Linked DNA regions of Homo sapiens. The protein of the gene in region 2 interacts with the protein of the main gene of each other region in a pairwise test. Each region holds a gene or a part of one and is shown on either strand. Other genes may lie near its edges.

What was found.
Region 1: the proteins of LAMP2 (region 2) and TMEM176B interact in binary tests that used the Homo sapiens proteins (3 or more experiments, as listed by UniProt).
Region 3: the proteins of LAMP2 (region 2) and C11orf54 interact in binary tests that used the Homo sapiens proteins (3 or more experiments, as listed by UniProt).
Region 4: the proteins of LAMP2 (region 2) and JMJD7 interact in binary tests that used the Homo sapiens proteins (3 or more experiments, as listed by UniProt).

Annotation. Positions count from the first base shown.
Region 1 is NC_000007.14:150,790,796-150,797,386, forward strand, and holds the end of TMEM176B (transmembrane protein 176B), read right to left. Parts: intron 5,780-6,591; coding exon of another isoform or gene 5,775-5,779; coding exon 5,571-5,774; intron 3,277-5,570; coding exon 3,166-3,276; intron 2,806-3,165; coding exon 2,749-2,805; intron 2,521-2,748; coding exon 2,293-2,520; intron 1,381-2,292; coding exon 1,261-1,380; intron 829-1,260; coding exon 736-828; 3' UTR 506-735; downstream 1-505. UniProt on the Homo sapiens protein: May play a role in the process of maturation of dendritic cells. Required for the development of cerebellar granule cells.
Region 2 is NC_000023.11:120,466,288-120,473,334, reverse strand, and holds the start of LAMP2 (lysosome-associated membrane glycoprotein 2 isoform A precursor), read left to right. Parts: upstream 1-4,038; 5' UTR 4,039-4,165; coding exon 4,166-4,229; intron 4,230-7,047. UniProt on the Homo sapiens protein: Lysosomal membrane glycoprotein which plays an important role in lysosome biogenesis, lysosomal pH regulation and autophagy.
Region 3 is NC_000011.10:93,758,653-93,765,257, reverse strand, and holds the end of C11orf54 (ester hydrolase C11orf54), read right to left. Parts: intron 5,517-6,605; coding exon 5,400-5,516; intron 3,744-5,399; coding exon 3,570-3,743; 3' UTR 509-3,569; downstream 1-508. UniProt on the Homo sapiens protein: Exhibits ester hydrolase activity on the substrate p-nitrophenyl acetate, in vitro. Regulates DNA damage and repair by regulating HIF1A degradation via chaperone-mediated autophagy (CMA).
Region 4 is NC_000015.10:41,831,072-41,838,088, reverse strand, and holds the end of JMJD7 (bifunctional peptidase and (3S)-lysyl hydroxylase JMJD7), read right to left. Parts: intron 3,350-7,017; coding exon 3,196-3,349; intron 3,120-3,195; coding exon 2,866-3,119; intron 2,502-2,865; coding exon 2,445-2,501; intron 1,942-2,444; coding exon 1,846-1,941; intron 1,615-1,845; coding exon 1,538-1,614; intron 1,309-1,537; coding exon 1,149-1,308; intron 1,022-1,148; coding exon 933-1,021; 3' UTR 508-932; downstream 1-507. Other genes in the region: JMJD7-PLA2G4B protein, read right to left, coding at 1,538-1,614, 1,846-1,941, 2,445-2,501, 2,866-3,119, 3,196-3,349. UniProt on the Homo sapiens protein: Bifunctional enzyme that acts both as an endopeptidase and 2-oxoglutarate-dependent monooxygenase.

The DNA.
Region 1 (6,591 bases), on a different chromosome or scaffold from region 2:
ATTTATGTTATATCTTCATATATAAAGAAAATGGAAAAAGTCAAAATCAGTTTGCTATCATTTACAATGAAAGGAAGGAAGACTAAGGATGTGTTTATGTGTGTGTGGAGACAGGAAAAGAGACAGAACCAACACTAATTACTGCAAAACGAAAAAAGAGAAAGGAAGGAAGACAGGGAGGGAGGGGGCAAAAATCTCATTCCATGCTCCACACAGTTCTCTTAAGTCTACAGGCCGAGGTTGTAGGAGCCTAGACAATCTCAGCAGGTAAGAAGATTCTAGGCCCACTAGACTTACACTTTACACTGAATTGAAGAAAATCATAAAAAGGGGTTTTGCCACCTGGATGTACAGCAGAACATAATTAAATTTAATCTTCTTGGGACAGTGTTTTAATGGGATAAATCAGCTCCCATTTAACCTCATACATAGCGACACAAAGAAAGGCCTTTCATGGCGCACGAGGTGTATAAACAAAGGGAAACCATATCTTTCTGGGCAAAACTGCTTTTCTGGATTGTTTATTATGTTTAATCAGCATTGTGGAAAATGCAACAATATCTGTTCATGGACTTGAGAACCCCAGAGTGGGAACAGCAGGTGCGGATGTGGGGAGAAGAAAGGAGGAGGGTCTGGAGAGCGGCCATAGGGGAGGCAAGTGTGAGGAGCCAGGAGTGGGGGCCCTGGGCTGCCCTAGACAGGGACATGCGGGCACCCCGTGGGGTCTTTGGCAGCTCACAGGACAATGGCAGTGGAGGTCTGCTCCCTAGAGGGCGAAGGGGGCACTGAATTCTCCCCCAGTAGCCTCTTCTCTGATCCTTCCTCATTCTGGAAAAAAAAGAAAAAAGAAATCCTTAGGGGAAAAGGATGCAGGCAGAGTTAGTATCATAGAACTCAGAAAGCAGAAAGAGGAAAGGAGGAGGGAAAGGAAAAGGTGACAGGAAAAGCAGATCAGGCAAAAAAAAAACAAGGTGGCAGAGGAAGGGGAGTCAGACGAACACCTGGGACAGGGCAGAGGGGAGAGTGGGGAGATCAGAGCAGAGGAGGGCGCAGAGAGGCACAGGGCGGCGACAGTTGGCCCAGGACCATGGTGATGGCCACATTCCCCAGACAGCAAAGGGGAGAGCTGCATATGGAAAGAAGCTGAGGGGCACCAGGCCCAGCCTCAGGTTCGGGTGCCCCTGGCCCCGCACTCCTACCTGTCCCACACACTCACCACCCAGACTCACGCTGCCCAGAGGCCCCTCCCCGACAACTCACCAGGGGCTGGGAGCTCTGGCCACACAAGTTTCGAAGACCTACTCCCAAGGAAACCAAGGACACAATGACCTTCAAGACACAGACAGCCAGGAACAGGGCACGGATTGCTGTGAACAACTTCTGGAGATAAGGGAAGAACAAAGATAGTCAGGTGTCAGCTACTCCAATGCTGCCCACATCACCACCCTCTCCACCCACCCAGGCACTGACTCTATCCAGCTTGCTGCTCCCACCACAGCTGACTGTGTTTCCAGCCACAGCTTCCATCCCGTTGGCTTGTCTGCAGAGTGAACTTATCACTCCCTGTCAAGAAGTGGAGACTATTCCTTCAACCCGTAGAATCTGGAAGGGCCTAGAACTGCTTTGGCCACAGTGAAAGTGACACTATACAGTGACAGGGAAGCCCTTAGCTGGTCTGGCAGCTTCTACTTTCTGTCTCCTGAAATGCTTGCAACTAGGGTACTCCCCATTGGAATCCAGTTTCTGTGCTATGAGAAGCCCAAGCCAAGTGGAGAAGCCATTGCCGGCTCTTGCTGACAGCCCCCGCTGAGCTCCGGACCATGCAACTACATCATCTCAGACCTCCAGCCTCGGCGAGCACTTGGATAACTTCACCCCCATCTGACTGTAACTGCATGAGAAAACCCGTGAGTGAGAATGGCTCATCTGAATCCAGCCAACTCACAGCACCGTGAGAAATAATAAGTTGTCATTTTAAGCCACTACATTTTGGTGTGGTTTTTAATTCAGTAATGGAAAACTGTGATACCAACACACCAGAAAAGCCAGAAGGGTGACCCACTATCTCCTCTCTGAAATGTCTCCTCTTTGTTCCTCACCCTCCTTGATTCAGAGAATCTTCGTGTCATGAGGTCTGAAAAATGTCTGTAGCTTACATTAAAACCTCCTGAATGAAAGACCCAGCATGAAGTCCAAGCTCAAAGAGCCTACATCTCTGTCCTCCAGGGCCCCCAGCTCCCTGGGAAAAAAGAGCTGTGATGGGTCCCCGAAGACTGGACTCTTCCTGCTCACCCTCAGCATCTGCATGTAAGCTCTACACTCCTCCTTCTGCCATTGGTTCTCTTGACTTCGCCGCATCCATCTGTACCCAGTGGTAGGGAAGACAGGGTCTGAGCGATCACACACAGTGTCGATGTATAAAAAGGGTTCAGTTTGCCAGATGAAGCTATTCACGCAGAGGACAACAGCAGCCATAGCTGTAGCAAAGCCTGCCAGGGTGAGCAGGCTGGATATATAGCCCTGGAAGAGAAAGAGGGTCATGACACACGCTCCTTCAATCGGTGGAAGAGTCATGAGGTCCCCGCCTCAAATCCCTCTCCTCTTCCCCAGCCCTTGTCCAGGAAACCCTCTCCTCCCCTCCAAGAAAGACCCCAAGATATTGACAACCAAAGGGCAGAAGACAGATAATGGAGCAGAATTCAGGAGGGGGTCAGTGAACAAGGTGGAGAGAGGGTGTCCAAGACTCACAGCAAGTTTGCCCGGGTGCTTCTCATGGACAATGGCCCCAGCTCCTGCTGCGATCACCTGAAAAGAGACACCAGAAAAAGGCCTCCAGTTTACTCTTCTGAATTGGTCTATCATCACCCTCCCACCAGCAGTTCCCAGAATAGCCAATGTGAAGCAGGATCCCAGGGACAGACAAAGAACTCTGACACACAGACCAGGATTCCACCTATACCTGCCCCACCCCTCCCATCTGTCTTCAAGAGAAAAATGGAAGTGACAGGGTTTTAGCTACACCCCAGAGCAGCCTCCTCATGGCCAAAGGCCATTTGGCTCCAGAGACTTTGGTCGCTTCCCCAAAGCCCCAACCAAGATCCATAAGCGCCTTCTTGCCCATCACCACTTGCCTCCCTCCAGGCTCACAGCCTGTTCCTTACTCACCACAGACCCCGCCCAGAAGGCACAGCCTGAGGCACTCAGCACAGTCCAGGGCCCCAAGCTGAGACACACTCCAAGAACACAACTCACAACCCCCAGCAATATCTGAGTCACCTGCAAGACAGGATGAGAAACCAGACCCCTTCCCGTGAGTCCACATGCCCCGGCTGCCCTGGGACCAGCTGCCTGGCTCCTACCTAGGTGGCTCTCCTCTCCTTTTCCTCTGCCTTGACCTCTCTGCAGCTCTGATTCTGGAAGATTCTGTCCCCTTAAAATCCATGAAGCAGCACTGGCCTGGGTCTCCCCTCACCCTTCTCATAGGCTTGGCTATTTATCCTTCATCAATTTTTCCCAACTTCAACACTTTCTCATCCCACCTGAAGATTCCCACTTTTCCCCCCCCATTCTCCTTCAGAGGTCCCATTGTCCCATCCAAACCCCCAGCCTGACCTGAGCTTCTGGCCTATCCTTTCTCTTCAGATCCAAACACACACTCTTGAGGGCTCTGTGGCAGACACAAAGAAGTGCCGCTGAGACCTCCTTCAAGAAAGGGCTTGTTTGATTGCTGACAGCCTGCAGTTGTCAGCTCCTTCAGGGTCACCCTAATTTTTCAAGCTGAAGACACACACTGAGGAGGGCCCCCCAGCCAATGATTAAGCAAGACAGTGGCTCAAGGGCCATCTCCACCCAGTGTGGAACTCCTGCAGTGGGCAACCTTTGCCTGGGAGCTCCCCCACTGGCCTGGCAGAGTCTGCATTGCAGCCTGATGGTTCCTCCTGCTCAATCCTGCTCCCCCTCTTTTCATTTCATAGGTGTCATACCCCAATAAGCCGTTCACACACCCAACTCCGACTCAGAAGAGAACTCCTCTTCTTCCTGGAAAACCCAACTGTCACCACCTCCACATCCTACCAGCATCTCGGATTTGTCACATCCAAATCCCCTACTACCACACACACACACACACACACACACACACACACACACACACCTCTCGAATGGCTGCTCCTCCTGACTTTCAGGGCTCCGATCTCCTGGTCACCCACACTTCAACCCTCTCTGCATGCTGTGAATGCCTCTCTTTCCTTATGCCCCAAACCCCTTCACTCCCATGCCATGGAGGTCTGTGAAGGACAGGGACTCCTTTGTCTCCTCACCATTTCTGCTATGATTATGTGAGTGCAGATCCTCGATCCTTCTCACCTGGATGCCTCCTGACTCTGAGGCAGGTTCCTGCTCAGAATCCATTGACAGCGTTCTCACTGTCAAAGCTGATTCAGGACAGACTCCTCACCTGGTCGTTCAAGGCTCTCAGCAATATGGGCCCAAATCACCCATTCATGAAGCCCATTCCCTTTACTCTTAACCATTATAGAACTTGCCCTATGCCTTCTGGCCTCTTTGCCTTTGCTCCTGCCATTCTTTAACCTGGAATTCTTTTTTGTCCATCTTCCACCTCTGTCTATACCTATTCCTTCTCCATTCAGGGTTCTCCTGCCCTCAAGGATGTCAGATGTGCTTCTCCCTCACCTGATCTACCTTTAGTTCCAGTCATTAGTGTAGCTGCTGTTCCTTCTGATGGTCACTGAGTACTTTTAGATATAGCCCAGGGATTCTCTCTGTAGCTTGGCCTGAAGTGCTGAACACATTGCCTTGCACCTGTAGGCTTTCAGTCCATGTGGGGTCAATAAAACCGAATTAACAGCCTCTAGACTGTTCTTCCTGTTGCCCTACCTCTGGCTGGGACCGACTCCTCTGTGCCAAAGAGGAGGTCGATTCTTCCTTTCCATCCAAATTTCTGTGGGGACACTTACAACTTTTTCCTACACAGAATGAGATATAAATAGTGATTTCTCATGTCCCTCTCATGGGAATTCAACCCACTTTCCTCTTTTGCATCCTATTGAAGAAGGAGAGTTTCCACTGTGAAAGCTGAGCCTACAAATGGGGTCATTCTTGTCACACTCAACTAAAACAGAGTCGAGAGGCCAGGGGCAAAAAGCACTCGGGGCACAAAATGTTGCTCCCAAAATGTAATTCTCTACAAATCAGGCTGCTGAAGCTGCCTGCTGCAACCTGAAACCAGCTTTATCTACAGCTTCTGACCTTGCTACAACTCTAGGATTAGTTTTACTCATGCCATCGCTCACCCATCAGAGCTCACCAGCTCCCCAAAACCTATGATCTTTCATGAAGGGCAATATGTAACATTTCTCCTTTTTATAAGCCTCTAACCTTCTCTTTGTTCTAAAGACATACTGGAGACCACCTGGTCTGTGTGTATGCCCCAAATTGCAATTCTCTCCTCCCAAATAAAACGTTTTAATTTTGAAGATTTGGCTCTATATTTTAATTGACCTCATCACCTCGTTAACGTGCCCCCCAACCCCGCACCACCCCAGTCTTACCCCTAGAGCCAGCTGCTCATAACCAATCCTGGCTGTGGAAGGCACAGTGTCCCCAGGGTGAAAAAGAAACTTCTTCAGAGAACCTCCAGCTTTCAGCAGTTGTGTCAAAGCTGACTCCTGGTGGATGTGGACGTTGACGTGGGTGGGCTGGGATGGCCTAGAGGCCATAGCAACTCCATTCACAATCACCGTGTTTTGCGTCATCCTGCCTGCCAGGGAGAAGACATATAGCAGTGAGGTCTGGGAACTAGGCGAGGGAAAAATACACAGCACAGGTGAAAGGAGAGAAATAGTGTCTTTGTCAAGATCCCAGCTGGGCACAATAGCTCACGCCTGTAATCCCAGTGCTTTGGGAGGCTGAGGTGGGTGGATTACCTGAGGTCAGGAGTTCAAGACCAGCCTGGCCAATGTGGCAAAACTCCCTCTCTACTAAAAATACAAAAATCCGCACGGTGGTGTGCACCTGTAGTCCCAGCTACTCAGGAGGCTGAGGCAGGAGAATCACTTCAACCTGGGAGGCTGAGGTTGCAGTGAGCTCAGATCTTGCCACTGCACTCCAGCCTGGGCAACAGAGTGAGACTCCATCTCAAAAAAAACAAAAACAAACAAACAAACAAACAAAAAACAGTGTCTTTGTCAAAATTCAAAGGGGCTTCCCAGTGCAGATATCAATGGCACTGGAAATCAATAGTGATTTTACACATAAAAAAGTTAAGAGATACAAAAGGGTATATATACCTTTAAAACCTTATCGCTCATCTTTTTCCCTCAACCACCTATTTGCCTTGCAGATGCAAAGTAATATTATCAGTCTCTTATAAATCCTACCATGACATTTTTGCATACAAAAGTGTGAAAAAGTATTTCTGCCCCCTTTTCCCACAAATAGCAGCATACTATACACACTGATTTGCATGATGCTGTGATCACACGATCATATGTTTTTAGAATAATCCTACATGAGTCCATAAAAAGTGTCAACCTAAATAACAGAGAGAGGCTCTCCAAAAGAAAATGAGAT
Region 2 (7,047 bases):
ACCCTAGATACAGCGGTACCAACAATCAAGTCAACCTTTGTGAAGCTTAGATCGGAGGGGATCTCACAGATTTCCTCAAACACTAACCCCAGTCTCACGTATACATCTGCATCTACCACCGAAAGCCAAGGAAAAGCTCCTTCAATCTGGGGCAGGGTAATGGGAGACTGTATAAGAAAAGGGATCTTTCTCACAGTGTTTTTTGGAGAAAACATTAAACATTTCTGAGTATGGAAGCTCAGTGCAAACAAAGACTTGAGAATTTTTAGCCTATTTATGCTGACAAAATACCCAGCATGTATCTACAACTTTCAAAACATTGTTGTGTCTCACGACGATGCCTGTCCCAGTCAAGGAGCCAGCATTTGTATTTGCCTGAGGAAAAGGTTGTGATGGGGGTGAGGGTGGATTTCGCTTGTAAGGCTGCTCATATTTCACTGTGTTTATTTTTTTAATTTGATGACACCTTCAAGAGATAAAGGGCGACAATTTATTACACCAGATATTTGACAAATTGGGACAGTATTTTATTTTATTTTAATTGTTAGAGACAGGGTCTCACTCATTTGCATAGGCTGGAGTGCAGTGGCGCCATCAAAGAGCACTGCAGCCTCAACCTCCTGGGCTCAAGCGACCCTCCCATCTCAGCCTCCCTGGTATCTGGGACTACAGGTGTGCACCACCATGGCTGGCTATCCTTATATATAAATATATACATATATTTTCAGAGACAGGGTCTTGCTCTGTCACCCAGGCTGGAGTGCAGTGGTGCAAACATGGCTCACTGCAGCCTCCACCTCCTGGACTTGAACAATCCTCTTGCCTCAGCCCCCAAGTAGCTGGGACTACAGGTGCACGCCACCACCCCCAGCTAATTTTTAATTTTTTGTAGAGATGGGGTTTCACCATGTTGGTCAGACTGGTCTCAAACTCCTGAGCTCAGGCAATCTGCCTGCTTTGGCTTCCCAAAGTGTTGGGATTACAGGTTTGAGCCACTGCACCTGGCCAATTTTAAATAAATGAGCATTTACTCACATAGAATCCTTGAATTATAAACCTGATGCCAACTTAGAGATCATCTGAGGCCCACCAATATTGTTTTGGGGAGTTTTGAGAAAAACACCATGCCCAGGCCTGACTTCAGATAAACTGAATCAGAATCTCAAGGGATGGGACCAAGGGGAATTTTCCACTTTTAAAGCTCCACAAGTGATTCCAACATGCAGCCAGGATCAAGAAACAGCTCTAGTCTCATTATTTCATTTTACCAATAAAGATATAGAAGTTCAAACAGATGAAGTGACCTGCCTAAGATCACACTGCCAGTAAGTGGTGTCTCACAACCAACTCCTCTGACTGCTAACCCAATGTTCTTTCCACTATGTTCTTTTTTTGTTTCTTCTTATAGAAAGAGCTTAGGGTTTTACTGAACATTAAAGTTATGCGATTTACAATTGAAAGAGAAGAGCTAGAGTCCAGGAAGTATTGGTGGGGCATCTTCAGAGGGCTCAACTCAGTTGTGGGTTCTCTGAAGACTACTATGCCCAGGACATAGCTCCTGCCAAGTCTCATTGATGGCAGTCAAAAGACATTTTGCTAAAGGCAATGACTAACACTGTATGCAGTGTTCATTAGTCTTGTGTTGGGTCACTTGTTCACAAATTAGTTTCACCTATGGTAGTAAACATTCATTGACAAATGTTCTCACTTTCAGGAATTAATTACATTAAAGCAAACAATAGTGGGGCAGATCGGTGCTTCTTAATATTTGAATTAGGGTAGGGGTTAGGGCAAGGAGTCACAGGTCCCATTGGAGAACTAGTGAAAACTACAAACTTCCCCACAAAAATACACATACATAAATGTTGCATGTAATTTCTGAGGATTCACCGACACCTCTCCCATCCTGTCTAAACTCATACATAAACTCCAGATTAAAATCTCCTGGACTAGATGATTTTGAAGCTCTCTTTCAGTGTTTTTCTCAAAGTGTGGTCCATGGACCACAGAATCAGAATCACTTGGGGTGTTTGTTAAAGAAGTGATTAATAAGACTGCCACAGACCTACTGTTTCAGAATCTCTGGGGAATGAGGTACAGGAATCTGTATGTTAAAAAAAAAAAACCCAAAACCAGATGGTTCTTTTGGAAACTAACACTTGAGAATCAGTGCTTTATTCCAACTCAAGATTTTTAAATGCTTTCATCTGTTGAATATTTTAGGTTTTGTCTGTTCATCTATCAAGTATAGCAAACAGTATGCTTAGTATGAACTCATTACAGAATATTTGTGTGTATGTACATAGGAAAAATATCTGGAAGTATAGATGTGGGTGTGTGTATATATGTGTGTAAATATATATAATAATGTTAATAGTAGGAATACAGATGATCTCTATTTTTCCGCTTTATCCTTCTGTTTTATTTCTCTCATTTTTTTCTTCCTGTGTTTAAAAAAGATGCTTCTTGTTTCTGAGCTCAATTCCCCCACCTGAGAACAGGGTGCTGTAACTAGGTGAATTTCAAGATCATGTCTTGTTCCGATGGTCCGTGACTCCATACTACCCCCTAGGTTCCCTCGTCCATCTCACAGCATGAACTGCATAGGTAACAACAGTGTTTGGAGAATAAGCATGTATTATTTTTGTATGTATTACGTTTGAGATGCCTAGCAACCGTTTTTGTGCCCGCAAAATTTTTCTCTTCTTTGTCAAGGAGCCAAAACGGAAATAGTCTACTATCTACGGCCCTCAAAAGTTCCTCCTCTCTCCTTAGCCTTAGAAAATACCGTCCGCCATAGGCATGGGCAAAGACCTCATGGCTAAAACACCAAAAGCAATCGCAACAAAAGTCAAAATTGACAAATGGGATCTAATTAAAAGAACTTCTGCACAGCAAAAGAAATTAGCATTAGCGTGAACAGGCAACCTGCAGAATGGGAGAAAATTTTTGCAATCTACCCATCTGACAAAGGTCTAATATCCAGAATCTACAAGGACCTTAAACAAATTTACAAGAAAAAAACAACCCCATCAAAAAGTGGGCAAAGGATATGACCAGACACTTCTCAAAAAAAGACATTTATGCAGCAACAAACATGAAAAAAAGCTCATTATCACTGATCATTAGAGAAAGGCAAATCAAAACCACAATGAGATACCATCTCACGCCAGTCAGAATGGTGATTATTAAAAAATCAGGAAACAATAGATGCTGGCGAGGCTGAGGAAAAATAGGAATGCTTTTACACTGTTGGTGGGAGTGTAAATTAGTTCAACTATTGTGGCAGACAGTGTGGCGATTCCTCAAAAATCTAGAACCAGAAATACCATTTGACGCATGCACACGTATGTTTATTGCAGCACTATTTACAATAGCAAAGACTTGGAACCAACCCAAATGCCCATCAATGATAGACTAGATAAAGAAAACGTGGCACATATATGCCATGGAATACTATGCAGCCATAAAAAAATGAGATCATGTCCTTTGCAGGGACATGGATGAAGCTGGAAGCCATCATCCTTAGCAAACTAACACAGGAACAGAAAACAAAACACTGCATGTTCTCACTCATAAGTGGGAGTTGAACAATGAGAACACATGGACACAGGGAGGGGAACAACACACACGGGGGCCTGTCAAGGGGTGGGGGCCAAGGGGAGGGAGAGCATTAGGAGAAATACCTAATGCATGTGGGGCTTAAAACCTAGATGACGGGTTGATAGGTGCAGTAAACCACCATGGCACATGTATACCTATGTAACAAAGCTGCACATTCTGCACATGTATCCCAGAACTTAAAGTAAAATTAAAAAAAAAAAAAAAAAAGAAAGAAAAAGAAAAAGAAAATGCCGTCCGCGCATATCTCTCAGGAGCATAGGAAGGGCTGTGAACCAAAAAGCCAGGGCGTGGTCGCCCCGCCCACCGGCCGCTACATCACCACCCCTCTCGCCGCTTTCAAGCGCGGAGATTGGCTGTAAGCAAGAAAGAGCCCCGCCCCTAGTCTTATGACTCGCACTGAAGCGCCGATTCCTGGCTTTTGCAAGGCTGTGGTCGGTGGTCATCAGTGCTCTTGACCCAGGTCCAGCGAGCCTTTTCCCTGGTGTTGCAGCTGTTGTTGTACCGCCGCCGTCGCCGCCGTCGCCGCCTGCTCTGCGGGGTCATGGTGTGCTTCCGCCTCTTCCCGGTTCCGGGCTCAGGGCTCGTTCTGGTCTGCCTAGTCCTGGGTGAGTTGTCGGGCCCTCCCGATTAGTCTGTCCGCCTGGGCCCGGGGCACCAGTTCAAAGCTACAACCTGAAAGACTGGTCCGAGGGGGAGGGGGTTGAGAGGCTCAGCAGCTAACACTGGGCGGCGGCGGTTGGCCCGGGGAGGCAAGCGGTGACCTAGAGAAGGCCTGACCGACGGATGGCGGGGAAGAAGGGCCCAGGAGAGTAAGAAGGGGCCGGTAACGGGGGGTGGACGCCGAGGGAGTAGGCTGGGAGGAGTGAAGCGTGGAGAGGGTCAGCGTGGAAAGAGTAACTTGGGGAAAACACTGAGGAGTGAGCGTAGGAGGGTGGTACATGCAGATTTTGGGCGCCAGAGACAATTAGGAGAGTCTTGGTTTGCTGAGATCAGGGAAGAGTTTTGAAGATGGTGGAAAAACTATGGGGTGAGATAGGAAATTAAGAGAGAAGACCATGCCTGCCTGGAGTAGCTTGGGAGAAGTGTGTGGGTGGGGGACAGATGGGACAGATAGGACAGTAGAGCCTGAGGGGCAGGGGCAGTGACAGGGTTGGGCATTTTGAAGGTTGGAATTTGAGACTGTGAAGAAAGGATGATTCAAGAGATTAGGAGTGATGCTGGGTTTGAGTTTGGTAGTCATAGTTTTAAGGGCGAAGGAACCTAAGGTAGCTGGGGCAATTTCCAGGAAAGAAAACTTGGACCCAACCTCTGGAGACTAAGGGGTTCAGGGGGAACTTTGATGGGGAGTGCACATCTGACTTGGAGGTATTGAGGATGTCGATTTTCTCCCAGTTTTGCTACTTCCTCCCAGCCAGACGCTGACAAAAAAATCCCCAGACGTTTCAGTTAGGAGGGCCTCCCAGATGTGAGGTTTTGGGGGTGGAGTATTTGAGTTTGGTAGACTACCTCTTTGCCTTCAGAGTTTCTTCTTTTCTTTCTTCCCCATCACACAGCTAGCCTATTACCTCATATTTTGGGGGTGCAGGGAGCAGGTAGACAAACTTGCTAAGGATTGGGTTGTTACCAGGGCCTAAGAATGGCTGGATGGGGCCGGGCGTGGTGGCTCATGCCTGTAATCCCAGCACTTTGGGAGGCCGAGGTGGGTGTATCACCTGAGGTCAGGAATTCAAGACCAGCCTGGCCAACATGGTGAAACCCCGTCTCTACTAAAAATACAAAAATTAGCCGGGCGTCGTGGCACATGCCTGTAATCCCAGCTGCTTGGGCGGCTGAGGCAGGAGAATCGCTTGAACCCAGAAGGCGGAGGTTGCAGTGAGCCAAGATTGCGCCATTGCACTCCAGCCTGGGCGACAAGAGTGAAACTCTGTCTCAAAAAATAAAAATAAATAAATCAATAAATAAATGGCTGGGTGAATGTTCGCTGATTGTGTTGTGCCCTAATAGGCAGTGGGTCGCTAACAACTTTAATGCCTAAAAGTGAACTTTGACTAAAGTGTCTCTTCCTGACTTTGATTCATGCTGTGCTTGTTGCTACCCACCTGCTCTTGCTATTTGTGACTTAATAAAATAACATAAAGAACAGACCCAGATGGGAGTGGGGAAGAAATAGACATATTAGGGGTCTGAGAAAGCAGTGAGAGGTATACATTTTGTAATTCACATTTCAGTAGAATGAAATCAACACCCTGGAATAGTGATTCTCAACCAGGGGACATTTGGCAACATCTGGAGACATTTTTGGTTGTAACAACTGGGGGATTGCTTTTAGCATCTAGTGGGTAGAGGCCAAGGATGCTGCTAAACATCCTAACTAAGCACAGGGCAGCCCCTGACAACAAAGAATCATCTCCCTGAAAATGTCAATGGTGCCAACATTGATAAATCCTGCTCGAAAACCATAGTATTGGAAGGGTTCTTGATTATCTAATTCAGTGACTCTCGAGGACCTTTTCATGCGTCTGTGAAATCAAAACTTCGGAATAAGGTTAAGAAGGTATTTGTCCTTTTCTGCTGGGCACAGTGGCTCACGCCTGTAATCCCAGCACTTTGGGAGGCTGAGGCGGGCGGATCACCTGAGATCAGGAGTTCAAGACCAGCCTGACCAACATGGTGAAACCCAGTCTCTACTAAAAATAGAAAAATTAGCCGGTGTCGTGGCACATGCCTGTAATCCCAGCTACTTGGGAGGCCGAGGCAGGAGAATCGCTTGAACCCAGGAGGCGGAGGTTGCGGTGAGCCAAGATTGCGCCACTGCATTCCAGCCTGGGCAACATGAGCGAAACTCTGTCTCAAAAAAAAAAAAAAAAAAAGAAGTTATTTGTCCTTTGTCCTTTTCACTCTCATCCTCTCACCAGTGTACAGCAGAGTTTTCCAGTGGCTACGTAACATGTGATGACCTCACCACTCTGATGTTCTTATATTTTATTCATTTCTCAGTTTTAATTTCTAATACTGTAAATACCAATACATATGACTCACATAAACCTCTGTGAAGTCCTCAGTGGATAAGAAAGTAAAGGGGTCCTGACACCAAAACTTTGGGAATCCCTGATGTAGTCCAACTGTTCACAGCGCGCAGGAAACTCTTCTGTAGCACTTCTGAAAGGCGGCCTTGAGGCAGGCTTTGCTTGAATACTTAATTGGAAGCCTTAACTGTACCTTGGAGCACTTACTGAGGGCCAACTGACCCTAAGAAAGGATTGTTTACAATGGAAAGTACCTTATCAGTGACTAGAACACATCTGACCAAGGCATCTGTTAATCAGTAGTTCCCTGCCAATTGAATCTGTGCACAAATACAACACTGTTATTGTTTTGGGAAAGTGAAAAAAATAATAGTTGTCCTACTTGTTGGCTTTCATG
Region 3 (6,605 bases), on a different chromosome or scaffold from region 2:
GCTTCCAAATTGCTGAACAGGTGGACATGCCTAGAAGGTGGGGCACCCAGAAACGGTGTGGAAGCTCTGGACTTCTGCTGGCCTTTCCATATGCATCTCTTCCATCTGGCTGTTCATCTGTATACTTTATTATATCCTTTATTAATAAACTGGAAAATATAAGTAAAGTGTTTCCCTGGGTTCAGTGATCTGCTCTAAGCAAATTAATCAAACCTGAAGAGGTAGGCATAGAGACCCCGATTTACAGTGGGTTGGTCAAAAGTACAGGTCACAACCTGAAGCTTGTGATTGGCATCGGAAGTGGGAGGCAGTCTTGGAGGATTGAACCATTAAACTGTGGGATCTGACGCTATCTCCAAGTAAATAGTGTTAGAATTGAATTAAATTATAGGACCCCCAGCTGATGTCTGCTGGAGAATTGCTTGGTGTGTGGGAAAAACCCCCATGCATCTGGTCACAGAAGCTTTCTGTGTTATACTGAGTGAATGTAAGAGTAAGAAGAGCACTTTGGGTGAGGTGCAGTGCCTCATGCCTGTAATCCCAGCAATTTGAGAGGCTGAGACGGGCAGATCACTTGAGGCCAGGAGTTCGAGAACAGCCTGGCCAACACGGCGAAACTCTGTCTCTATAAAGAAAGAAAACTAAGAAAAAATTTAAAAAGAAAAGCATTTTGATCTTTTCCCCCATCTCTATTAGATGGTGTGAATGTACCTGGTCTCCAAGCTTTTTGAATTGTGTCTATCAGCAATACAATTTTGAACTGAAATCCCTAACGTAAGAAATGTACACAAAACCACAGAAACTTAAAAGGACGAAATAAAATATATAAATAGATGTTCTAATATTCCCACACCCCTTGGAAGGTCATGTGTACCTGCTGTCCATGCACCCCATTTTGGAGGACACTAATGGAAGAGTAAAGGCAGTGTTGGTATCTGTAGTGTGAAGAGGCCCAGGACTGCTTCAGATGATCTCTACACCTGGAATCTGACCTGAAATAAGCTCTGATCTGAAATCAGATCTGAAATCTGTAATTAAGAATCTGACTTAATTTATGTTTGACTGCTGGTGGCTTTTAAGCCTTATCCCACCCCTCGTCCCCTTATGCCCTACACCTCTGGCAAGCTAAGAAAGCCTGGGTGCTCGCCAGACATGGTGGCCCATGCCTGTAATCCCAGCACTTTGGGAGGCCGAGGCAGGAAGATGACTTGAGCCCAGCCTGGGCAACATAGTGAGACACCATCTCTTTAAAAAAATAAAGCAAGCAAGCCTGGGTGTTTCCTTCTTTGATACCAGTGGGAAATTCAAACCACATGCAAGAAACATCACTCTGGCCCTACTCCCTAACCACCAAAAAACTCCAAGTCAGTCTCCTTCCCTGTTGTCAAATCCTGCTTAGGAGCTGCCCTGCTTTCCCCAGAAAGCTTCATTATGTGAGTAACAACCCTTTCATACTCTGTTGGTGTGTGTGTGGCTTCATCAGTCATTTTTTTTTTCTTTTTGAGACAGGGTCTCACTGTGTTGCCCAGGCTACAGTGCAATGAAACAATCATAGCTCACTGTAGCCTCCAACTTCTGGGCTCAAGTGATTCTCGTGCCTCAGCCTCCTGAGCAGCTGGGACAACAGGTGTGCACAACCATGCCCAGATAATTAAAAAATTTTTTTTCTTTTTTTGCAGAGATGGGGGTCTCTCTCTGTTGCCCAGGCTGGCCTTGAACTCCTGGCCTCAAGTGATCCTCCTGCCTTGGTCTCCCTAAGTACTAGGATTACAGGCGTGAGCCACTGAACTTGGCTATCAGTCTGGACATGTGAACCAAATTTTGAGTGTGGAATGCATCCTGTCTCAGTGCGGGATGGCCACAAAAAAATAGCATCCTCCTTTACAGTCCATCTACTCCTTTCTTTTCATAGCATTTAATACCACCTGACATATTATATATTTATTGTTTGTCTTCCCCACTAGACAGATCCCCAGCTTTAGTAAAGTGTTTGGTATAATCATCCGAGTGGCTACTTTGCTAGCAGTTAAAGGCACTAGTGCTACAGTCGTGAACAAGGCCCTTGCCCACATGAAGTGTACACTCCAGAGAGAAGGGTAGGTGTTCAATACATATTTGTTAAATGATAGACTATTAATATTATTTTGTCTGGAGGTAAGATATTACAAACATATCATAAATTAAATTTTTTATTCATTTTTTTGCATCAAAATAGTGCTTAAAATTGGAATTTATACTCACAAGACATAGCTAACATCCAAAGTAGACAATTAAAAAATATTATTTGAAAATTATGTACTTAGTACTGAAGACTTCCTAAATTTGCACATTAGCTAGATTGCCATTAGCACCATTAGAGAGTTGATCTTTGGCTAATGATTATTCAGGAAAATTTCAACCATTACAATCAGTGAGTATAATTTTATATTTCAGCAACGATAGTGGTCATGTTCAGCAACAGCTTCACTTACAAATTAAAGTAAGCTCACTTCAGTGTTGCACTCTGATGCTGTTTTTTTACCCCTTCTCTTGCAAATAACCAGTGAAATAAAAATTGCTTCTAACTGGCAATCGAAACAAGGGAGGAATTATGGCTAGCCAACTAGTTGCTAATGTTTGTGTTTTTTTTATTTAAGAAACATTTTAAATAATAGAGATGGGGTCTCACCATGGTGCCCAGGCTGGTTTAAACTCCTAGGCTCAGGCAATCCTCCCACTCGGCCTCCCAACATGCTGGGATCACAGGCTTCAGCCACCATGCCCGGACTGCTAATGTTTGTGAAAGGCAAATTGTAAACTTCTATGGTTTAACTTCACCAGAAGGGTAAAGGGCTCCCCACCTGCCACCTTGTTCTATAAAAAAAGTATACTCTGATTACTAGAATGGATTTTTAAAATTCAATTCAAAGATTCAATAACTATCAACATTTCTAAACACTGATTTTTCTTTTTCTCTTTTTCAAATGTTTTTTAATATCCTGCAGGTAATAACACTGATTTTTCTAATACTCAGAAACATCTACTTAGCAGTTGTGATACTAATTTGCAAAATGTAATAATGTTATACAAATATAAGATACTACTAAATACATAGTAGAAATAATTGCATGATTCCTGATATTTATATTCAAGGTATAAACATGACTGATTTCGCTGATACTACAGAATAAAAAAAATAAAGCTGCTATGTAAAAAATTAAAGAATATCTCAATTAGATATTTTTGTTCCCAATCTCTTTCAGACAGATCTATGAAATAATATAGAATATACTATCAATATGTTCTTTCATATGAAGTGAAAAAAATGGGATTTAAGTAGTGAGATAATTTCTATTTTTTACTTTTTTAAAAAAATAGACAGGGTCTTGCTATGTTGCCCAAGCTGGTCTCAAACTCCTGGGCTCCAGTGTGCTTCCTGCCTCAGCCTCCCAAAGTGCTGGGATTATAGGCATGAGCCATTGTGCCTGGCCTGTGGGATCATTTCTATTGGTTTTATATCAGTATTAATTAATAAGTCAATCAATTAATTAACCTTAATTATTTCTTTTTCTAAATAAGTATCAGCTGATTTAATCTCGCCCAATTGAATGCGTCTCTTTTGGTTGATCAATGCGATAGAGAAACTCTGCAGGTAAGAAGTATCCAAGATATTCCACTATATCTGGAGTAGTGTCATAATGGTAGTGTCCACCTTCTCCATGACGACTAAAAAAATGAGTGTGCTCCAGTCGCAAATCAAACCCCTAAGATAACAGACAAACAATATGTTAGTACTCAAATTATTGATTAGAGTTTAAGGGGGAGGGATAACTTTTTACGTTGCAATAGTTTTTATTTTTTAAATAGGTAATACATTCACATGTTCTAAATTCAAAGGGGGCAAAACGATGTATTCAGTAAAATGTATCTTCTTCTCTCTTGCCCTCACCACTCACTCCCCTTCCTAGCAGGTAACCAGTGTAAGCATTTTCTTGTATATCCTTCCATAAATACTTACTTTTATTTTTACTCAAATGTAGTATTTTGTACACACTTTTCTGCATGTAACTTTTTTTCATGTAACAATATAGTTTTGAGATCTTTGTATATGAAATCATAAAAGAGCTTCCTCATTCTTTTATACCTGCATGGTATTCTATTGCGTATGTAACTTCTCAACTGACACTTGCATTATTTCTAATTCTTTTGCTACTACAACAATACTGTAATAATAACCTTTTAACTAGTAATTTTACACAATTATGCATATATTTAAGTATAATATCCTAGGCATGTAATCACTGGATCAAGATATGACCAGGGTAGGCGGAGTAGCTCATGCCTGTAATCCCACCACTTTGGGAGGCTGAGGCGGGCGGATCACTTGAGGTCAGGAGCTCGAGACCAGCCTGGTCAACATGGCGAAACCCTGTCTCTACTGAAAATACAAAAATTAGCCGGGTGTGGTGGTGAGTACCGGTAATCCCAGCTACTCAGGAGGGTGAGGCAGGAGAACCACATGAACCCAAGAGGCGGAGGTTGCAGTGAGCCGAGATTGCATCACTGCACTCCAGCCTGGGCAACAGAGCGAGACTCTGTCACAAAAAATAAAAAAAAGAGAAGATATGACCAATATTTTAGTAGGTATTTGCTTTGAATTGGTCTGTAATATTTTTTCTAGCGTATAGTATTATAATATAATGAACACCAAACAAGATGACAGGAGACCTGAATCCTAGTTGTGACTCTACTAATTGTTTTTTTTGAGATGGGGATTATACTGTTACCCAGGCTGGTCTCAAACTTCTGGGTTCAAGTCAGCCTCCTCAGTAGCTAAGAATACTGGGGCATGTGACCATGCCCAACTACACCTGCTATTTAATAAAATAATTTTGGGTGTTATTTAAAATGCTTGTGCCTTCATTTTCTCAAAGGTAAAATCTGCTCTGCCTAACTCATAGGATGGTGAAGAGCTCCCTTATCTTCCAAAATAATTCTAGAGGCTACCCTCATTCTTAAATAACAACAACACATGGCCGGGCATGGTGGCTCATGCTTGTAATCCCAACACTTTGGGAGGCAGAGGTGGGTGGATCACCTGAGGTCAGTGGTTTGAGACCAGCCTGACCAACGTGGTGAAACCCCGTCTACTAAATATACAAAAATTAGCCAGGCATGGTGGCAGATGCCTATAATCCCAGCTACCCGGGAGGCTGAGGCAGGAGAATCGCTTGAACCCAGGAGGCGGAGGTTGCAGTAAGCTGAGATCCTGCCATTGCACTCTAGCCTGGGCAACAAGAGTGAAACTCTGTCTCAAAACAACAACAACAACAAACACAAAAGTGCCTAGTTCTTAAAGATTATCCTAAAAATCAAGCATTATCATTGTAGTATAATATAAAAAACAGACACAGACTTACTGGGTCTCTGGAGACAAAAACTGGTAGACAAACCAAAGGAGCTTTCATTTCATAAAAATGCAACCATTTATTCACTTCTTCATCAGAGTTCAAGGGGCAGGAAGAAAATTCTGCAGGCTACAACAAAAGATAATTACATAGGTAAACATACTGAATATTACTAAGAATTAAAAATTTTAAAAATATATTTTACTTATTTATTATTATTGTTTAATTATACTTGAAGTTCTGGGTTACATGTGTAGAACATGCAGTTTTGTTATATAGGTATACACGTACCCTGGTGGTTTGCTGCACCCATCAACCTGTCACCTACATTAGGTATTTCTCCTAATGCTATCCCTCCCCTAGTCCCCCACTCCCCGAAAGGCCCCGGTGTGTGATGTTCCCCTCCCTGTGTCCATGTGTTCCCATTGTTCAACAACCCACTTATGAGTGAGAACATGGGGTGTTTGGTTTTCTGATCTTGTGATAGTTTGCTGAGAATGATGGTTTCCAGCTTCATCCATGTCCCTGAAAAGGACATAAATTCATCCTTTTTTATGGCTGCATAGTATTCCATGGTGTATATGTACCACATTTTCTTAATCCAGTCATTTGAGTTGGTTCCAAGTCTTTGCTATTGTGAATAGTGCTGCAATAAACATATGTGTGCGTGTATCTTTATCACAGAATGATTTATAATCCTTTGGGTATATGCCCAGTAATGGGATTGCCGGGTCAAATGGTATTTCCAGTTCTAGATCCTTGAGGAATCACCACACTGACTTCCACAATGGTTGAACTAATTTACACTCCCACCAACAGTGTAAAAGCATTCCTATTTTTCCACAACCTCTCCAGCATCTGTTGTTTCCTGACAGGGTCTGGCTCTGTCACCCAGGCTGGAGTGCAGTGGGATGATCACAGTGGGCCTGGAAAAAGCACCACAAGTTTCCACTCTGGTGTGTGGGATTGGCAGCTGGGCCCCCAGCCTTCAGGCCTTCCCTGGCCCGAAAGTGGGGCCTCACCGGAAACCCGCCCCCTTCTGCCCCGGAACCTGTCTGCCTCCTGCTGCCGATCACGGAATCCAGGCTGTAGGTGCCAAGGGGTGCCTGAAGGCCAGTGGGGAGCTGCTCTCAGCCGCCGCTCAGCTTCCCTTCTACGCTCGTGTCAGCGCCCCAAATCCAGAAGGGGCCGGGACGGCAGGGGGCTGGTGTGTCAGCA
Region 4 (7,017 bases), on a different chromosome or scaffold from region 2:
TGCTTGCTTGTCCCAGGGAGGGGCTGCGGTGACTCTCATGGACAGCGGGACTTGGGCAGCTGACGGCTCTTTGGGCCCAGGCTGGGATCCAGCCCTCACCCCCAGTGAAGGTCACCCTGAAGTTTTTACCTGAACCTTCAGGCCCTCCTTAGACCACAGAAGGCAACTTCAAGAGGGAGGATCAGAACATACGACTCATAAGCCAGGCGCAGCAGCTCACACCTGTAATCCCAGCACTTTTGGGAGGCCGAGGCAGGTGGATCACGAGGTCAGGAGATCAAGACCATACTGGCTAACACGGTGAAACCCCGTCTCTACTAAAAATACAAAAAAATTAGCCGGGCATGGTGGCACGCACCTGTAGTCCCAGCTACTTGGGAGGCTGAGGCAGAATAGTGTGAACCTGGGAGGCGGAGCTTGCAGTGAGCTGACATCACACCACTGCACTCCAGCCTGGGTGACAGAGCGAGACCCCATCTTAAAAAAAAAAAAAAAAGGACATACGACTCACAGCTACCTTTTATTCAACATGTCCTGTGTGCCAGCTCCATGCTGGTCCTCATAGACATCATCTCCAAGCCCACAACAGCCCCGCGAGGTACAGCCATTATTATCTCTTTACTGACAGGACACCAATGCCCGAGACGCAGTGACTCGCCCAACATCACAGCGCTGGGGAGAGGTGCCGCTGCACCTGATCCCCACTCTGCTCACCTGTGTGGCAACTTCCTGAGAACCCTCACCCAGACCTGCCTGGCACCTTGAGTCCTTATGACCACATTCCAAGATCCTCCAAAGCTGATCTCAAGCCATGCTGGACCCGGGGCCAGCAGCCAGCATGCACACTCCAGGCTCTCTCGAGAATTGACCTGGCCAGGGAGGGGCTGGCTCCGTCCCCCGAGGCGTGCTTGGTGGTGTTCACCAGTGCTCCATCAGTCAAGGCCTGAAGCCTTGGTGAGGGAGTCGAGCAGCTGGAAGTAACTATACTTGAGGTCGTATTCCATGTCATACCAGAAATTCACTGTGGGAAGAACGGGGATCTGAGCATGAAGATCCCTCTTCTGACCTAGAGCCTCCCAAGCCTCCCCCCAGAGGCCCTGCTGGACCTTGACAGGGCCTCTCCCCAGGCGGCCTGGGCAACTCTTCACCTGCGATGCAGCCCTGGGACTGCTGGACGTGGTGGAACCACAGAGCCGGCAGATAGAGCATCTCACCGGCCCGCACCGTGCAGCGAAGGGCCTGGGCCTGACTGTAACTAGGGTACCGTGCTAGGTCTGGCGCCAAGGGGTCCAGTGGGATCCAGGGCACCTGGGAACACATCAGATGCCAGGGAGCAGCCCCCCAGACCCCCCAGGACTTCAGGCTCTGTCCCTTCCAAAGGTCAACACCACAGGCCCTGCTTGGCTCAGCAGTGAAAGGCCTCAGACTTAGAGACTTTTCAGAGCAAGGTGCCACCTCCCCAGATCTTTTGTGCCTGTTCTTCAGAGCCAGGCTTCTGCCCTTCTCCCTCCCTAGAGCCCAAGAACAGGACAGACACCTTCTCCATGGCCTCTTCATCCACCACCTTAAAGGTGCCCTCTTCAGTTAGCTGGTAGGTTGCCGGCGTGTACAGCTCTGGAGCCCAAGGGAGAAGGGTGTGGGGGAATTGCAAACAGCCTGGAACTTGCCAGACCCTCCTCCACCCCAGCCAGCCCTGGGCAGGGGCAAGGGGATCAGGGGCCCTGGTGCACTGGGGATGCCACAGCCACACCTCAGGCCTGGGAACTGGCCTCCCAGGCTCTTGCTGCCTCCCTCCCCCTTGGGCCAGCTGTTCCCCAGCCCCTCCCTGCAGGCCACATCCCCTACCATAGGGGATGAAGGGCCGGTCGCTGGGCGGATGGAACAGGAAATGCTTCTCTCCTGAGACCACGCAGTAGAGGTTCTCATAGTGGTCCTTGTGCACTGCCAACAGAAAGAAGGCCCGGGGGCAGGGTATGGAGGGCAGGGGCACGGGAGGAGGCAAACCATCATGCTGAGAGCCCTGCACCCCAAGACGTCCTATGACAAAAGAGAAGCACGCACAGAGCCAGTGGGCTGGAGATGCCAGGGGCTCTGATGGGCATTCTGGAACTCTGCCTACCAGGGACCTGATGCTCACCAGGCCCTGGACTCCTCTTCAACAAGAGGGGAAGTTCTCCTACACTTACCCCCTGGCCCAGCGGGCCTTCAGGGAGGTTTCTTTGGGTCTAGAAGAAACAATGCACCCGCCCCCAATGCCATGGGTCCATTCCCCGACCTCAGCTGTCAGGGGAAACCCTCTGTGGTGCCCGAGTCCTAGAAGCCAAAAGAAATCTTAGAGAACAGCCCAACCTCCACCCAGGGCCATCCCTCCACTCCTGGCCTCGTCTTCCCTCCCTCTGCCCCAACCTGCTCCTTCCCCACCTTTGTATTCCCCTTACACCTACAAGAAGTCACTGCAGCCGCCTCCCCCAGCCAGAAGTTCACAGCATCGGGCATCTTTCCTGCAGGGCAGAAGGCAGAGAGCAAGTTAGGAAGGCCAGGCTGGGGAAAGCTGCCATCCAGTGATGCCAGAGCCAAAACCTGGGTGAGCACAGAAGAATCCCAAGAAAGGGGTCAGGGAGAAGAGGCAGAGGTTGGGAAATCTTGGGGAAGGGGTCCTCCCTCCCTGGGGCAGAAGGAAGGACAACAATCTTTGGCAATTCATCTATGATTAAGTCAAGGCCTGGGAATGTATTTAGTGAGCTGCACCAGATGCTGACAGGACCAAGCCCATAGGCCAGGTCATCACCTAAGGGCAAACAGGCTGACCCCCCTCCTTCCCATATCTTCCCTGTCCAGGGCCACGACCACCCCACCTCCACTCACCCAGGGCTTCGGAGGCCCAGGGCACATGGGATTCCAGATCAGGCAGCAGCTGGGGCAGCTCGCTGGGCAGGTTGGAGCACTGCTTCTGCACATAGAGGACTCCAGGGTGCTGGGCCCGGCCCTCCAGCACATCCAGCACGAAGCTCAGGGGCAGGCGGCGCTCAGCTGGCATCATGAAGCGATCCCCTCTCACGGCATCCGCGTAACCATCTGGGGTCACGGCCACACTCACCTCTGTGGAGCCCACTGTGGCTCTAGAGGAATGGACACTCAGCCCATGCCCAGATGCCAGTAATCACTGCTCACACCTGACCCCAGGGCAGCTCCCACCTGAAATAGGGGAGGGACCACTTCTGGAGGGCCGGCCAGTGCTGCAGAGCGTTGCGGATAATGCACGGCCTGTTGGGGCAGACCCAGTCCCGGTAGAAGTGGAGCGGAGTTGGGGGTTTGTCCAGGTAGGGCACAGCAAGAGGCACGCAGAGCTCTGAGAGAAAGAAGAAGACAGGGGATGGAAGGGCTGATGTCTGCAGCACCCAGTCCCTGCCCAAGAGATGCCCTCCCTGGAAAGGCCGCGCTGTGTCACTGGGAAATGCTCGTTGGTGACCAAAGGACCCTGGACAACCAGTAATAGAAAGATGAGGACGGAAAAATGAAAGCAGAAAGCATCACGCACACACACCAGCATGGGCCCTGACCGTCCACAGGGCCAGAGGCTGCTACCCAGCCCATAAGCCAAATCCCCTGTGGGGCTGTGTCTGCACAGTGGACCCTATGCCTTCCCACCCTGGAGAGGCCAGCCTCCTAGCATCTACCAGGAAAGGCCACCATGGAAGTGGCATTGGGAGCTCCAGAATGAGTAAGGCTGAGGCCCCATGGCCACGGGCTATTCTGGGTGTTGTGTGGCTCTGGGAAGCCCCCTTTAACAGTGACATTTACTGAGCACCAGGAATGTGCTCAGCACTTGGCTTGGCTAATCTGGGGCTATCAGGGATGACACAATCATCATCTTAAGAAATTTACAACCTTCTTACCCGGGAAGACAAACTACCAGATGACACCAATGGAGGAAAAGGAAGGGCTCGGCTATGGTTTGGGTCCTGCTGAACAGCATCACCATCTCCAGACACCCAGGGCCACCACGTACACTTCGGCAGGCTGCGTGGTGTGCCGCCTGCGCAGGGGTCTACAGTGGCCCTGTGTCACCTCTAATCAAAATCTTTTTGACTCAGCTTTCTCCTTCACTCCCGTCATCCTACTGATTGGCTCTGAGTCCTGTTGATTCTGTCTCCTATGTCTCTCAAACCCACCGTCTCCTCTCCTCCACTGGCATCCACATTCCAGCTACCTCCTTTGGGTCCTCACTCAAATATCACATTGATAAGACTTCCTTCTCTGACTATACTTTCTAAATTTATAATCTGTCCCCCTGCTGCAAATCTTTATATCCCTTTCCGTATTTTTTCTCGTTAGCATTCATCACCATCTGACATGCTATATATTTTAGGGCTAGACGTGGTGGCTCATGTCTGTAATCCCAGCACTTTGGGAGGCAGAGGCAGGAGGATTGCTGAGGCCGGGAGGTCAAGACCAGCCTTGGCAACGTAGGGAGACCCCATCTCTACAAAAAAATTAAAAATTAACTGGACATGGTGGCATGCACCTATACTCCTAGCTACGCTAGAGGCTGAAGCCAGAGGATCACTTGAGTCCAAGAGGTAGAGGCTGCAATGAGCTATCATCGTGCCACTGCACTCCAGCCTGGGTGACAGAGCAAGACTTTATCTCAAAAAAAAAAAAAAAAAAAAAAAATATATATATATATATATATATGTATTTCACCTACATAAACTGTTTATCATTCTTTCACCCTTGCTAGAATGTGAACTCCACAAGGGCAGAGACAGTTGTCTGTTCACTGATGCACCCCTGGGACCTAGAACAGTACCTAGCACATAGCATGTGCTCAGCAAGTATTTGCCTAATGTTGAATAAAAGTCTCCAGTATCCTGGCTGGATGGTTGCAGTAGTGAACTAGCTGGTTTCTCTGGCTTAATTCCACTCCCACCCAAAGCATTCATCATCATAGCCCCAGTCATCTTCTGAAAATACAATCTCATATTGTCACACCCCTAGTAACAAATGCCTTGATGGCTTACCACTGCTCCTTAGAGAATGCTGCCTGCCTTGGCACGCATGACCAGGCCCAACCTACTCTTCCAGTCTGATTTCCTGTCTCGTGCCTGCCCTTGCCACACACCCTCTATTCAGGTGGTACCTTTGTTCCAGCTGCTCACTCAGACTGGAGTGTCTTTCTACTGGTTTTTATAAAGTGTACAGGGCTTCGCTTTGCTACATTCATGCTCTAGGTCGAGCCAGAAGGCCGTGGTTCCCATTTGGTGGTTACCACATGCTGCTCCAAATGGTCCCAGCACTGATGTTCACCTCTGAGGTTACGCTGCACCTCTCACAGCAACACCATGCCAGTCACCTTTACTTTCTGATCAGTTGGAAAGTGAATGTTCTTAGATCAAATATTGTAACTGAGTGAGAAGACCCCACTGGGCCCAGGAATACTGGAAAGGAAAGAGTTGGTGTGCCTGCTTGCTTCCCTGGCTAGAGGCAAGATGGCACCCATCCAGTAGATATGGAATCCAGGAGACAGCAAAGTGGCAAAGGCCTTCCCAGTCACGCCAGCCCATCCAAGCAGTCACCTTGAGAGATGGGGTGGTCTGGGGCTCAGTACATCTTCCTGTTGTACTCGCTGAGATTAAGAGACAGAGTCTTGCTCTGTTGCCCAGGCTGAAGTGCAGTGACGCAATAATAGCTCACCGCAGCCATAAACTGTCACGGGATCTTTGGGGTGTTGCTTTACCAGCTGGAAACCTCTGTGGCCAGTGATGCCTTTGCCTGTTTTGCTCGGGCCCATTGGGCCCACTCGGCCCTGCAGGCTGTGCTCAGCTCATGCTACCGGCCTGGATCCCACACCTGCCAAGGGCGAGTGGGGCAGCGAGGGGTGTGTGAGCGAATGAGTGTGGGGTTTGGCCACTGCGCACAGCTAGGCATGTGGGCTGCGGTGGGGCAGGCAGCTTCAGGTGCCAACACAGGTGCTGGTTTCCTGCAAGGCTGCAGCTAGACCAGGTGTACCATAAGCAGCTTCCACAGCTGACACTGGGAAGCATGGTGGTGCCTGGAAGCTTGCAGATACCAGGAACCGCAGAGCCCTAAAGAGGGTGTCAGAACCCCAGCTTGGGAAGCTCCTGGGTCTGGACTCCCCAAAGGGCCGCAGTTCTTCTTTCCTTCTGGACACCCACAATGTGGCGAGCAAGACGCATGGTTCAGTCCTCTTCATGTTACAGCTCTTTTAGCCCCGCCACTCAGCAGGTCCCAATTCTTGTCCTGCATCCAGGAAGAATGAGGTACACACAGACAAGCAGAGGGTAAACAAGACAAAGAGGAGCTTTACTGAGCCATAGGATAGCTCAGAGGAGACCCACAGTGGGCAGCTCCTCTCCGCAGCCAGGGTGTCCCAACGAGTGTTCAGCTCTCAGCAAAGAGGATAGCTCCTCTCTCTGCAGGCAGGTAGTCCTGTTGAGTGTTCAGCTCAGCAGAGCTTTGTTCCAGCTGCTCACTCAGACTGGAGTGTCTTTCTGCTGGTTTTTATAAAGTGTACAGGGCTTCGCTTTGCTACATTCATGCTCTAGGTCGAGCCAAAAGGCCGTGGTTTCCATTTGGTGGTTACCACATCCTGCTCCAAATGGTCCCGGCACTGATGTTCACCTCTGAGGTCACACTGCATCTCTCACAGCCACACCATGCCAGTCACCTTTACTTTCTGATCAGTTGGAAAGTGAATGTTCTTAGATCAAATATTGTAACTGAGTGAGAAGACCCCACTGGGCCCAGGAATACTGGAAAAGAAAGAGCTGGCATGCCTGCTTGCTTCCCTGGCTAGAGTAGCTCCTCTCTGTGGGCAGGTTGTCCTGTCATCTCTCCAGCTCTCAGCAGAGAGGGTAGCTCCTCCCCGCAGCTGGTCGTCCCATCGTCTCTTCTGGTCTGGCTGAGTCAGGGGCTTTTTATGGGTCTCACAGGGGAGGAGGTACATGCCTATTGGTCCATGGGCAGCCATGGGTGGGCCGGAAAAAGCACCAAAAG